Regions from separate parts of the Homo sapiens genome. Here region 2 is linked to region 1. The links come from fine-mapping of genetic effects on gene expression. A gene starts in region 1. The other region holds a variant in brackets. All regions are shown on one strand. Distances are from middle to middle. Region 1 holds the start of WDR5-DT (WDR5 divergent transcript). Region 2 overlaps LOC105376311 (a long non-coding RNA gene).

Region 1 (5,360 bases):
GCCTGGCCAAAATGTTGTATTTATAAAAATTGTTTAGAGAAGGCTGGGCGTGATGGCTCACGCCTGTAATCCCAGCACTTTGGAGGCCAAGGCGGGTGGATCACCTGAGGTTAGGAGTTTGAGACCAGCCTGACCAACATGGTGAAACCCCATCTCTACTGAAAATACAAAATTAGCTGGGCGTGGTGGCGCATGCCTGTAATCCCAGCTACTCGGGAGGCTGAGGCAGGAGACTTGCTTGAACTCGGGAGGCCAAGGTTGTGGTGATCACCCCATTGCACTCCAGCCTGGGCAACAAGAGCAAACTCCGTCTCAAAAAAAAAAAAAAAAAAAAAAAAGAGAAAATCCTCTAACCCCATTCAGCAATTTTTGCAATCCACCCCTGCCTGCAGTCATAGCTAAAATTCTGAAACCATATAACGCCAGCAAGGAAGAGAATTTAACAAAGGCAAGTAATTTGCTTTACTAAGTTTTAAATCCTCTTATATCCTACCAAACAGTTGTCAGCCTCAGGAAAAAATATGGCAGGTGAAAATAGAAGAGAAAATAAGAATCACAGAAGAGGAACAAACACGATGGAGATTTTCAGAACATTAACTAGGCTTTGGCCACCAGCAGTGACTTAGTAAATGGAACTGTTTCTCTGAACATCTTTTTTATTTTTTTGAGACGGAGTTTTGCTCTTGTTGCCCAGGCTGGAGTGCAATGGTGCGATCTCGGCTCACTGCAACCTCTTTCCTGGGTTCCAGCGATTCTCCTTGCCTCAGCCTCAGCCTCAGGTGATCCCGACCTCAGGTGATCCACTCGCCTCAGCCTCCCAAAGTGCTGGGATTACAGGCGTGAGCCGCCGCGCCCGGCCGGATTTTCTCATTTTTACTAGAAGGTTCTATCTCCTGGGGGTGGGGTGAGGTGGTGAGACCAATTCACCTGGAAGTGGAAGCTGGGAACTTGGTTTGAGTTCTGAGGGTTCTGGGGTCTCGCCCCTTATCTTGCTTTGCCTGGAGGGCTGAAGGGCTGGAAATATTTTTGTTTTGGGGCTGGAACCAGGACTGCAGTTTGGGAGCCGGTGCTAGGTTGGAAGAGGAGGCGGGGTCTGGTAAGCACTTTAGCCGAATTGAGCAGTGGGAATTAGGGAATTGAGGGCAGTGGGAAGCTGGTTCTGAGTTTTAAACTGGGGAGTGACAGATCAGAGCTGGATTTTTAGGAGTTTCTCTGTTTGGAGGTTTAGAAAAGACCCAGGTGGGAGGTAGGGCTGGGGTGGGGAGGGAGAGAAGTGGACGATCTGAGAGCTGAGGTGGGGTGGAAGGAGAGCAGCGTGTCACGGGCTCGGGATTCCGGCCCAGGCGGCCAGGTGGACGGAGATAAAGATGCGCTTCTTCATCCGAACTGGGTTTGCTAACCTGTGACTGTCACCACTCCATGCTCCAGGGCACCTGGCCCAAGGGATCCGGCCTCTTGGGCACACAAATCCATATGGAGCCCTGAAGGACCAGACAGGGACCTTGCCTTCTCTGTGTCCTTCCTGGGAAGGGGACTCCAGACCAACTGCCAGTCTTCCGGTTCCACCTCTCTGACAACCGCTCACCTCACCCTCCTTGGCATTTTTATTTCAAATGCTCTATCCCTTTGTTTGCATGGGTTCCTGTGTCATATTCTGTGTTCCCATTTTTAATTGGAGAATAAGGGACTGTATGTTATTCTACCCACAGGCCTAGCTGAGGGGATAGGGAGGCCATGCCTACCTCCAAGGCTCTAAGAAGTGAAGCAGGCGGCGAGAATGTGCAGTCGTTGAGGCCAGAGGACCGGGCCTCAGCTTCTCCTTAAGCCCCTGAGTCCTCCTCTGGGGACCACCCCCTTGTACCTGGAGGTGAAAATGCCCGCCCAGGAGGGAAGGGCTGGCCCCGGGAGAGCCCGCTGCGAAGTGAGTTTGCGCACTGCGGAGCGGGCGCGGGTGACTCCAGAGCGGCCCTGCCAGTCCGCGGGGCTGGCGGGGAGCAGGTTCGTGCACCGCGGGCTCTGTGCATGCAGAGGCGGGAAGAGCCCCCAGCCCGGCAGCCGGCCCCGCGGGAAGGCGCAGCCCGGGCTTCCGAACCCTGTGAACGCGCAGGTTCCTGGTCTTCCAGATGGGCAGGAATCGTCCTGCCCGCCCGGGGTGGGAGGCCACATGGGGGCACTGCGCCCGGGCGCGGCCCCAGGTGCTTTCCAAATGCCCACTGCCGCTCTCATCCGTACCAGCGATGATCAAGAAGGGGCCTGGTCGCCCGGGGAGGTGCCCCGGCCCGAATCGACTCCGGAGACAACGCCGGGCGACGCCACCTGCGCAGGTCCCGGAGGGCCGCTGGTGTCTGTGTACAGGGCGTGCTGTCTGTGGAAACGCGAGGGCACACTAGCACTTTCCTGTATGTATTATTATACTTCAGTTTTTAGGAAGTGCATTAGAAGGGCCTGCACCAGTCAAATTCGGGGATTAAAGCTTTTAAGCGGGAAGCGCGCGCCCCGTGCTGTCCCTTTAAAGCGTTGGGCCGGCCCGAGGCATTCTGGCCGCTGTCGCTGCCCGTAGCGCTCCTCCGAGAGGCCGGCTTTGTGAGCTCGCCCCGCCCCCCGGACACCGCCCCCTCCCCTCGCGCACGCGCACTGCGCCCCCGCCGCCTGGCGCCCGCCCGAGCTGCCGCCTTGTCGAGCTGAGTCCGCGCTCCCGCCCAGGCGGCGGCCGACGCGACGCCCCGAGCGCCCGGCCCCGCCGCCGCGGCCCGGCAGGTAAGCGGGCAGCCGCCCGGCCCGGGGAACACAAGGCGGGCAGCGGGGCGGCGCCAGAAGCTTCCAAACCGCACCCGGCCGCCGCACGTGTTCCCCGCCGGGCCTCGGGCCAGGCCCAGCCCCGGGCGCTGCTCCCGCTGCAGCGGCCCCGCCCGGGACCCCCGCCCCGGCCCCTCGGTGGACGGCCGCGCGCGCAGTTCCCTCCACCCGGTCCGCCCCCACTCGCGCCCCCACCTCCGCCTCCCCGGCGGACCGCTGACAAGGCCAGAGCGCCGGCACTGGGTCCTCTTTCCCGCAGGCAGCGTGCCCGGCCTCACATCGCCCCTCTCCCTCCACTGCCCCTTCAGGGAAGGACCCCAGACCCACCAAGCCACTCAGTCCCTGGACGAGGTGCGCTTCCCCTCCTCGTAGAAACGCCCCCAGCCCGCTCCCGCCGCTCACCCCAACCCGAGGCAGCCAGGCTGCAGCTCGCTAGGTGGGGTCCTGGGGTGCGGGTCCTCGGTCCTGAACGGTAGGCCCACCGTGCCTCCTCGCGCGGGGCCGCAGACCTGTCCTGGCCGGTCTGCGAGAGCCATTTTGAGCGGTTACGTTCCCGGACCAAACAGAGGTCGGCCTGTTACATCGCTAACGACACTCCCTGCTGTCTCGCTTGCAAGTTTCCACTCACCCCGGTCCGTTTACCCATCTCCTCAAATGCTAGTTTAATCTGTGACCTGGGCAGGTGCTGTCCTAGCCGGTGGGGAAGACAGGAAAGCGAAGGACCCAGGCGGGGAGCCTGTCCAGGATCTCAGATAGGGAGAGCCAGGTCCCCACCTCTGTTGGGCCGGCCACCCGGCTGGTGTTTAAGATGCAGATTAATTCCTGTCTTTGCACACAGTATGCTTTTCTGACTGCATGTCACAGGCAGATTCCTGGGCTCCACCTCAGGGACTGAGGGACTCAGGAATCGGCCTGTGGCATGCAGTCCAGGAGGGCACACTGAGGTTTGGTTGCTCGGCTTCAGGTGGTCAGGCTTACCTGGATGAAAAGCAGTGGCTGCTAGGAGGAGCCAGGCAGCATCTGGTCTAGGGGCCGCCAATTCATCACCGTTCCCGTAACCTTGGCCCCCGCTTTCCTCAAGATCAAGTCTCCAACCTTCCTGTTCTCTCAAAAGGATTGTTCCACAGAGACACCTGAGTGTTCATGAAAATGCCAAGCCTTGGCCCGGCGCGGTGGCTCACGCCTGTAATCCTAGCACTTTGGGAGGCTGAGGCGGGCGGATTGCCTGAGGTCAGGAGTTCGAGACTAGCCTGGGCAACATGGCGAAACTCCGTCTCTACTAAAAATACAAAAGATTGGCCGGGCGTAGTGGTACGCGCCTGTAATCCCGGCTAAACTGGAGGCTGAGGCGCAAGAATTACTTGAACCCGGAAGGTGGAGGTTGTAGTGAGCCCAGATCGTGCACCTGGACTCTTTGGACTGTGTCTCAAAAAAAAAACAAAAACAAAAAAAAAACACGCCAAGCCTAGACCCCACCGACGTAGAAACTTGGTGGGTGTGTTGGGTCAAGAAATTGCATTCCCCGCCACCCCCCGACGGAGTTTCACTGTTTGGCCCAGGCTGGAGTGCAGTGGCGCAATCTTGGTTCTGCCTTCTGGTTTCAAGTGATTCTCCTGCCTCAGCCTCCCGAGTAGCTGGGATTACAGGGACCGACCACCACACCCGGCTAATTTCTGTATTTTTAGTAGGGAGGGGGTTTCTCCATGCTGGTCAGGCTGGTCTTGAACTTCCTGACCTCGTGATCTGCCCACCTCAGCCTCCCAAAGTGCTGAGATTACAGGCGTCAGCCACTGTGCCCAGCCATCATATTCTTAAAAGTCAAGTTAAGGTTGTTTTGTTTGTTTCTTTTACATGTTCATGTTTTTTGAGCCCAAAGGTTGGGGCAGGTTGGGCTTGAGCTGGGAGGGGCTGGACACCTTTTTTGTAAGACCGCCTATCTGTTGTTCCTCCTCTGAGGGTGTTTCCAGGCGTCTAGACTCACCCAGGTGAGTTGATGCTGACAGGAGCTGCTCGGCCTTCTGAGCTGCCTATTTCGCCTTCTGTTCCTCTGGTGTTTCGCTTGGGTAGGGCATGGGCACAGTTCACTCAGCTCTGGCCCTGGCCTGGCTGTCTAACGCTAGGACTGTTATAGTGGACTTTGCAGCTTTTTGCTTGGATTTCCTTAGTTCCTCTCTCTCCCTGTATTTGTCCAGCCTGCCAAGGAAAATGCAGCAGTTGGGTTAAATTGGCATGGCTAGGTTGCACTAATGACAAGTACCACGTAGCTGGCATTTACCGAGGACCGGTTTTGTACTGGCACTTTGTCCCCTGGGCAGCGCTACAGGGCCTGCCCCTCCTCTCCCCCTCTCTTGTACTGTACTCGGCCCTAGATGCAGCGTGATCCATCTTTGCGCAGGGAATCTTTGCTGCAGGTGAAATGGAGCGGTGGCCACACCTGTTCTCTGCAAAGTGGGTGTTGTAATTTCTCTGCCTTCCTCTTGGATGAAGACTTTGAGACATGCTTTTTAATGCCTTCCATTTCGCGTTAGTGTTACAATCAGCCTGTGCAAGATTTCAGTTCCAAG
Region 2 (5,360 bases), 330 kb after region 1:
CCACACGCGCCTCTGCCCGGCTCACCCAGCCGCCCCCCCATTAGTGCCCACTCTGCACCACACGCACCTCTGCCCCGCTCACCCAGCCGCCCCCTCATTAGTGCCCACTCTGCGCCACACGCGCCTCTGCCCGGCTCACCCAGCCTCCCCCCCATTAGTGCCCACTCTGCGCCACACGCGCCTCTGCCCCGCTCACCCAGCCGCCCCCTCATTAGTGCCCACTCTGCACCACACGCGCCTCTGCCCCGCTCACCCAGCCGCCCCCTCATTAGTGCCCACTCTGCGCCACACGCGCCTCTGCCCGGCTCACCCAGCCTCCCCCCCATTAGTGCCCACTCTGCACCACACGCGCCTCTGCCCCGCTCACCCAGCCTCCCCCCCATTAGTGCCCACTCTGCACCACACGCGCCTCTGCCCGGCTCACCCAGCCGCCCCCCCATTAGTGCCCACTCTGCACCACACGCGCCTCTGCCCGGCTCACCCAGCCTCCCCCCCATTAGTGCCCACTCTGCACCACACGCGCCTCTGCCCCGCTCACCCAGCCTCCCCCCCATTAGTGCCCACTCTGCACCACACGCGCCTCTGCCCGGCTCACCCAGCCGCCCCCCCATTAGTGCCCACTCTGCACCACACGCGCCTCTGCCCCGCTCACCCAGCCTCCCCCCCATTAGTGCCCACTCTGCACCACACGCGCCTCTGCCCCGCTCACCCAGCCTCCCCCCCATTAGTGCCCACTCTGCGCCACACGCGCCTCTGCCCCGCTCACCCAGCCGCCCCCTCATTAGTGCCCACTCTGCACCACACGCGCCTCTGCCCCGCTCACCCAGCCGCCCCCTCATTAGTGCCCACTCTGCGCCACACGCGCCTCTGCCCCGCTCACCCAGCCGCCCCCTCATTAGTGCCCACTCTGCGCCACACGCGCCTCTGCCCCGCTCACCCAGCCGCCCCCTCATTAGTGCCCACTCTGCGCCACACGCGCCTCTGCCCCGCTCACCCAGCCGCCCCCTCATTAGTGCCCACTCTGCGCCACACGCGCCTCTGCCCCGCTCAGCCAGCCGCCCCCTCATTAGTGCCCACTCTGCGCCACACGCGCCTCTGCCCCGCTCACCCAGCCGCCCCCTCATTAGTGCCCACTCTGCGCCACACGCGCCTCTGCCCCGCTCACCCAGCCGCCCCCTCATTAGTGCCCACTCTGCACCATACGCGCCTCTGCCCCGCTCACCCAGCCGCCCCTCCATTAGTGCCCACTCTGTGCCACATGTGCCACTGCCCATGTCCCTTGCTTCAGTTCCAATGGGCCTACTGGCCTCGGATCCCTTGTCCACTCCAGGTCTGCACTTGGGAGATGGGGTCACCTGGTGCTGGGCCCCTGAAGTATGCCGATGACCTGGGCCCTGCAGAAGTGTCCAGCTTGGGGAGGCGGGAAGCAAAGCAGAGCTCCGGGGTGGCCTTTGATTTTCTACTTCCCCCAGCCCCATTCCAGGGACCCCTCCACCCTGCTACACCCACCTGCATGCAGGGACATGAGCCGAGAGCCCAGAGGGGACCCGTGAGAAGGGAGGGAGGAAAGTGAGAAGACTCCGGTACCAGCAGCCTGGAGTTACACTGGGACAACCAGACGCTCCAGGGTGCATCAGCAGAGGACGACCCTGTCCCTGAGCAGCTCCCAGGCGGCTCTGCCATCCTGGAGGCCCCTGGGGCGCTGTCCTATCAGCACCAAGCAGCTGTGCTCCCAAACTCTGGGGCGTGCAGCCTCAGGGCAAGGTGGCTTTGGGTGGCTGATGGTGCCCCCTCAGGGACTCTGAGCAGGTCTGAATCTTTCTGAGCCCTTGTTTCTTTAGGTACAAAGCAGAGATGCTTACCTGCCAGATGGAAGGTCTGGGGGAGGGGAAGGGACTTCAGAACACGCCGCTGGGGCATAAAATTATTTTGTGCAGGAGGCATTTGAGTTTCAGAAACCCCTTATCTGAATAAAAGCAGAGCCCCCCAAAAGAACTAGAAATAACTCAACTGCTGTACATCCCTCCCTGGAGTGGCCAGGGAAGATGGACTCTTATCATAGTCAGTGACGAGAAACCTCCATAGCACACGGATACGGGCGTGGTCCCAGAGCCACGCTACCCCAAATCTGTCCACCTCAGGGCCCATTTACCTTTCCAAAAAGCCATTCGTTTTCCTGTGTGTGCCCTTCTCCTTCTCCCCTGATTTTTGTGTACCTCTAAGAGGATATGTAAGCCCCAGATTCTAACCACTCCTCTGAATCCCATTTTCCTGTGGTCTCCCATGTACATTTCTACATGAAAACATTTTTTTCCTCTTCCTAATCTGCCTCTTGTCAGTTTAATTTGCAGGACACAGTGGCATCATCAGAGATGGCAGAGCTCTTTCACTCCATGGGAACTGCTCTTGGAGCCCCTGGCCCCTTGAGGGGACCTGAGACTCGGGGAGGAGGGAGGTCTGCTTATGTCAGGGTGGGGCTGGGCTGACCTGTCTCCATGCACATCAGGCAGCCTGGGTCCTGTCTCAGCCTGGCCAGCATGATCGACTCCTATTCCCACGTCCGAGCCCTTTGCAGGTATTACCTCCTTTCCAGAAGGGGCTGCTGCCTTTTGTTGCTCTTCCTAAATCAGGTCCTGGGCCAGGTAGTTTAGGAGCAATGAGGTCCTTAATGTTTATGGCCCCGTGCCCTCCTTCACAGGTGGGGGAGCTGAGGGTTTAGAGGGATGGCGCGACTTCCCCCGAGTGCCCCAGCAGGATATGAGGCCAGGCTGCTACATCCATCCCAGGACCCTAGGGCCCTGCAGGCGGAGGCTGGGACCTCTGCACCCACCTCAAAGGCCTGTCCATTTGCAGGGCGGGACTGCCCACGAGGCTGGGCCTGATCCAGCTCCAGACACCAACCCCATGGAATCCCAGTTCCACCTGGGGCAGCCTGTGATGAGCAGGTCACCTCACCTCTCCAAGCCTTGGTTTTATGTCTGTAAAGTAGAGGCAATGTTATCCCTCGCTGCACAGGGTTGATGCAACGGGGCAAGAAATAAGGTGGGGGAGACAGGCTGCCTGCGTTCCCCCCAACACGCATGC[T/G]CCCTCAGGAACCCGATGCCTGTGCAGCCTTGCCAGGCTAGCACGGGGACCTGCCTCTCAGAGGCAAGACCCAGAATGCACCCATAGTATGGCCACTTGATCTGGGACCCTGGCAACCTCCTCCCCTGTCTCTGGGCCTCAGTTTCTCCCCCTGCACCACGGGGGGCTACGCTAGTTGACTGGAGCCCCTTCTTGGCCCAGTTTGTGCAGAGCATGAAACCAGTCACCCGGGTGTCCTGCTGGCCTCCCAGACCATGCGATGCTGCTGGTTAGCAACCACAGAAACAAACGCATCAAGAGGCATTCCTTGGCTTTAAAAAGAGGCCGTTTGAAGAGGCAGGCCGGCCTCCCCCGCCCGGTGTGCCCGGCATCTGGGAGGGGCAGGGCTGGGAAGGTGATGAGTGCATGGCAGCCAGACCTTGGCTGGCCGGAGGAGGCCGGCGGGCTGGGGCCCTGGCTTTGGTCAGGCTTGTTTTATGTCAGGGTGACTTGGGCCGTGGAGGAGCCGCCGTCTTGCCAAAACAATGTTTAAAACATCTCGGAAAATGTGCAGCCACTTCTTTTCCACGGGATTCATGCCGAGTCTTCCTGGCTTGTTGGGGAGGGTTGAGGACTGGCCAGGAGGGAGTGAAGAGGGCGGCCACAGGAAAAAGAGTGAGAGACTTTAGACTGAGGCAGGGGCCTGTCCCTGCCCTGCCTGCCCTCCCTGTCTCTTCTCTCCCTGTCCCCCACCCCTCACCACCCACCCCAGGAAGTCAAAACTCTGTCTCTGTTTCTCTCGCCACCCCAGGCCACCCTAGGAAGTGGGCACTAAACCCATTTCACAGATGGGCAGCCACAGTGCTGGGGTAGGAAATGAGGATTCTGACCCACCCAGCGTGGGGGCTGGGAGCTGGATCGGCTACAGAATGTGTAGAGCCTCTGCAAAGAGAAAACAGAGGTCCCACATTCCAGATGGAAATAACTAAGAATTTTAAGAGGGCAACAACAAAGCATTAAACCAACTACAAGACCCTCCTGAGCCTGGGTTCTCACGAGCCGGGGTCCTCCTGAGCCTGGGTCCTCCTAAGCCTGGGATCCTCCTGAGCCTGGGTCCTCCTGAGCCTGGGGCCCTCCTAAGTCAGGGTCCTCCTGAGCCTGGATCCTCCTGAGCCTGGGTTCCTCCTGAGCCTGGGTCCTTCCATGTCAGGGTCCTCCTGAACTGGGGTCCTCCTGAGCCTGGGTCCTCCTGAGCATGGGTCCTCCTGAGCCTGGGTCCTCCTGAGCATGGGTCCTCCTGAGCCTGGGAACTTCTGAGCCTCGGGTCTTCCTGAGTCAGGGTCCTTCTGATCCTGGGTCCTCCTAAGTCTGGGGTCCTCCTGAGCCTGGGTCCTCCTGAGCCTGGGGCCCTCCTGAGCCTGGGGTCCTCCTGAGCCTGAGTCCTCCTGAGCCTGGGGTCCTCCTGAGCCTGGGTCCTCCTGAGCATGGGTCCTCCTGAGCCTGGGAACTTCTGAGCCTGGGGTCTTCCTGAGTCAGGGTCCTTCTGATCCTGGGTCCTCCTAAGTCTGGGGTCCTCCTGAGCCTGTGTCCTCCTGAGCCTGGGGCCCTCCTGAGCCTGGGGTCCTCCTGAGCCTGAGTCCTCCTGAGCCTGGGGTCCTCCTGAGCCTGGGTCCTCCTGAGCCTGGGGTCCTCCTGAGTCAGGGTCCTCCTGAGTTGGGGTCCTCCTGAGCCTGGGACCCTCCTAAGTCAGAGTCCTCCTGAGCCTGGGTCCTTCTGTGTCAGGGTCCTCCTGAACTGGGGTCCTCCTGAGCCTGGCAACTCCTGAGCCTGGGTCCTCCTGAAGCTGGGCCCTCCTGAATCAGGGTCCTCCTGAGTTGGGGTCTTTCTGAGCCTGGGTCCCTCCTGAGCCCAGGTCCTCCTGAGCCTGGGACCCTCCTGAGTAAGGGTCCTCCTGAGCCTCAGTCCTTCTGTGTCAGGGTCCTCCTGAACTGGAGTCCTCCAGAGCCTGGAAACTCCTGAGCCTGGGCCCTCCTGAGTCAGGGTCCTCCTGAGCCTGGGACCTCCTGAGCCTGGGAACTCCTGAACCTGGGGTCCTCCTGAGTCAGGGTCCTCCTGAGTTGGGGTCCTCTTGAGCCTGGGGTTCTCCTGAGCCTGGGACCCTCCTAAGTGAGAGTCCTCCTGAGCCTGGGTCCTTCCATGTCAGGGTCCTCCTGAACTGGGGTCCTCCTGAGCCTGGGTCCTCCTGAGCATGGGTCCTTCTGAGCCTGGAAACTTCTGAGCCTGGGGTCTTCCTGAGT

The links. PIP is the estimated chance that this variant, and not a neighbour inherited with it, causes the effect.
Region 2: its variant is the best candidate, but not a certain one, in a credible set for the expression of WDR5-DT in ileum (GTEx, PIP 0.68).

What each region holds. Positions count from the first base shown.
Region 1 is chr9:134,133,444-134,138,803 of GRCh38, forward strand. WDR5-DT (WDR5 divergent transcript) reads right to left here and starts at 2,539. Exons shown (of 2, transcript NR_186420.1): 1 at 1,743-2,539. It overlaps WDR5 (WD repeat domain 5), which reads left to right and starts at 2,639. Exons shown (of 14, transcript NM_017588.3): 1 at 2,639-2,757. RefSeq lists enhancers at 1,680-1,789, 2,696-3,620 and silencers at 1,980-2,149, 2,590-2,769.
Region 2 is chr9:134,465,728-134,471,087 of GRCh38, forward strand. The region is part of intron 1 of LOC105376311 (a long non-coding RNA gene); the gene reads left to right. Among named protein-coding and RNA genes, the nearest start is that of MIR4669, 89 kb to the left of the region's middle. The variant T/G (reference allele first, on the strand shown) is at 3,085.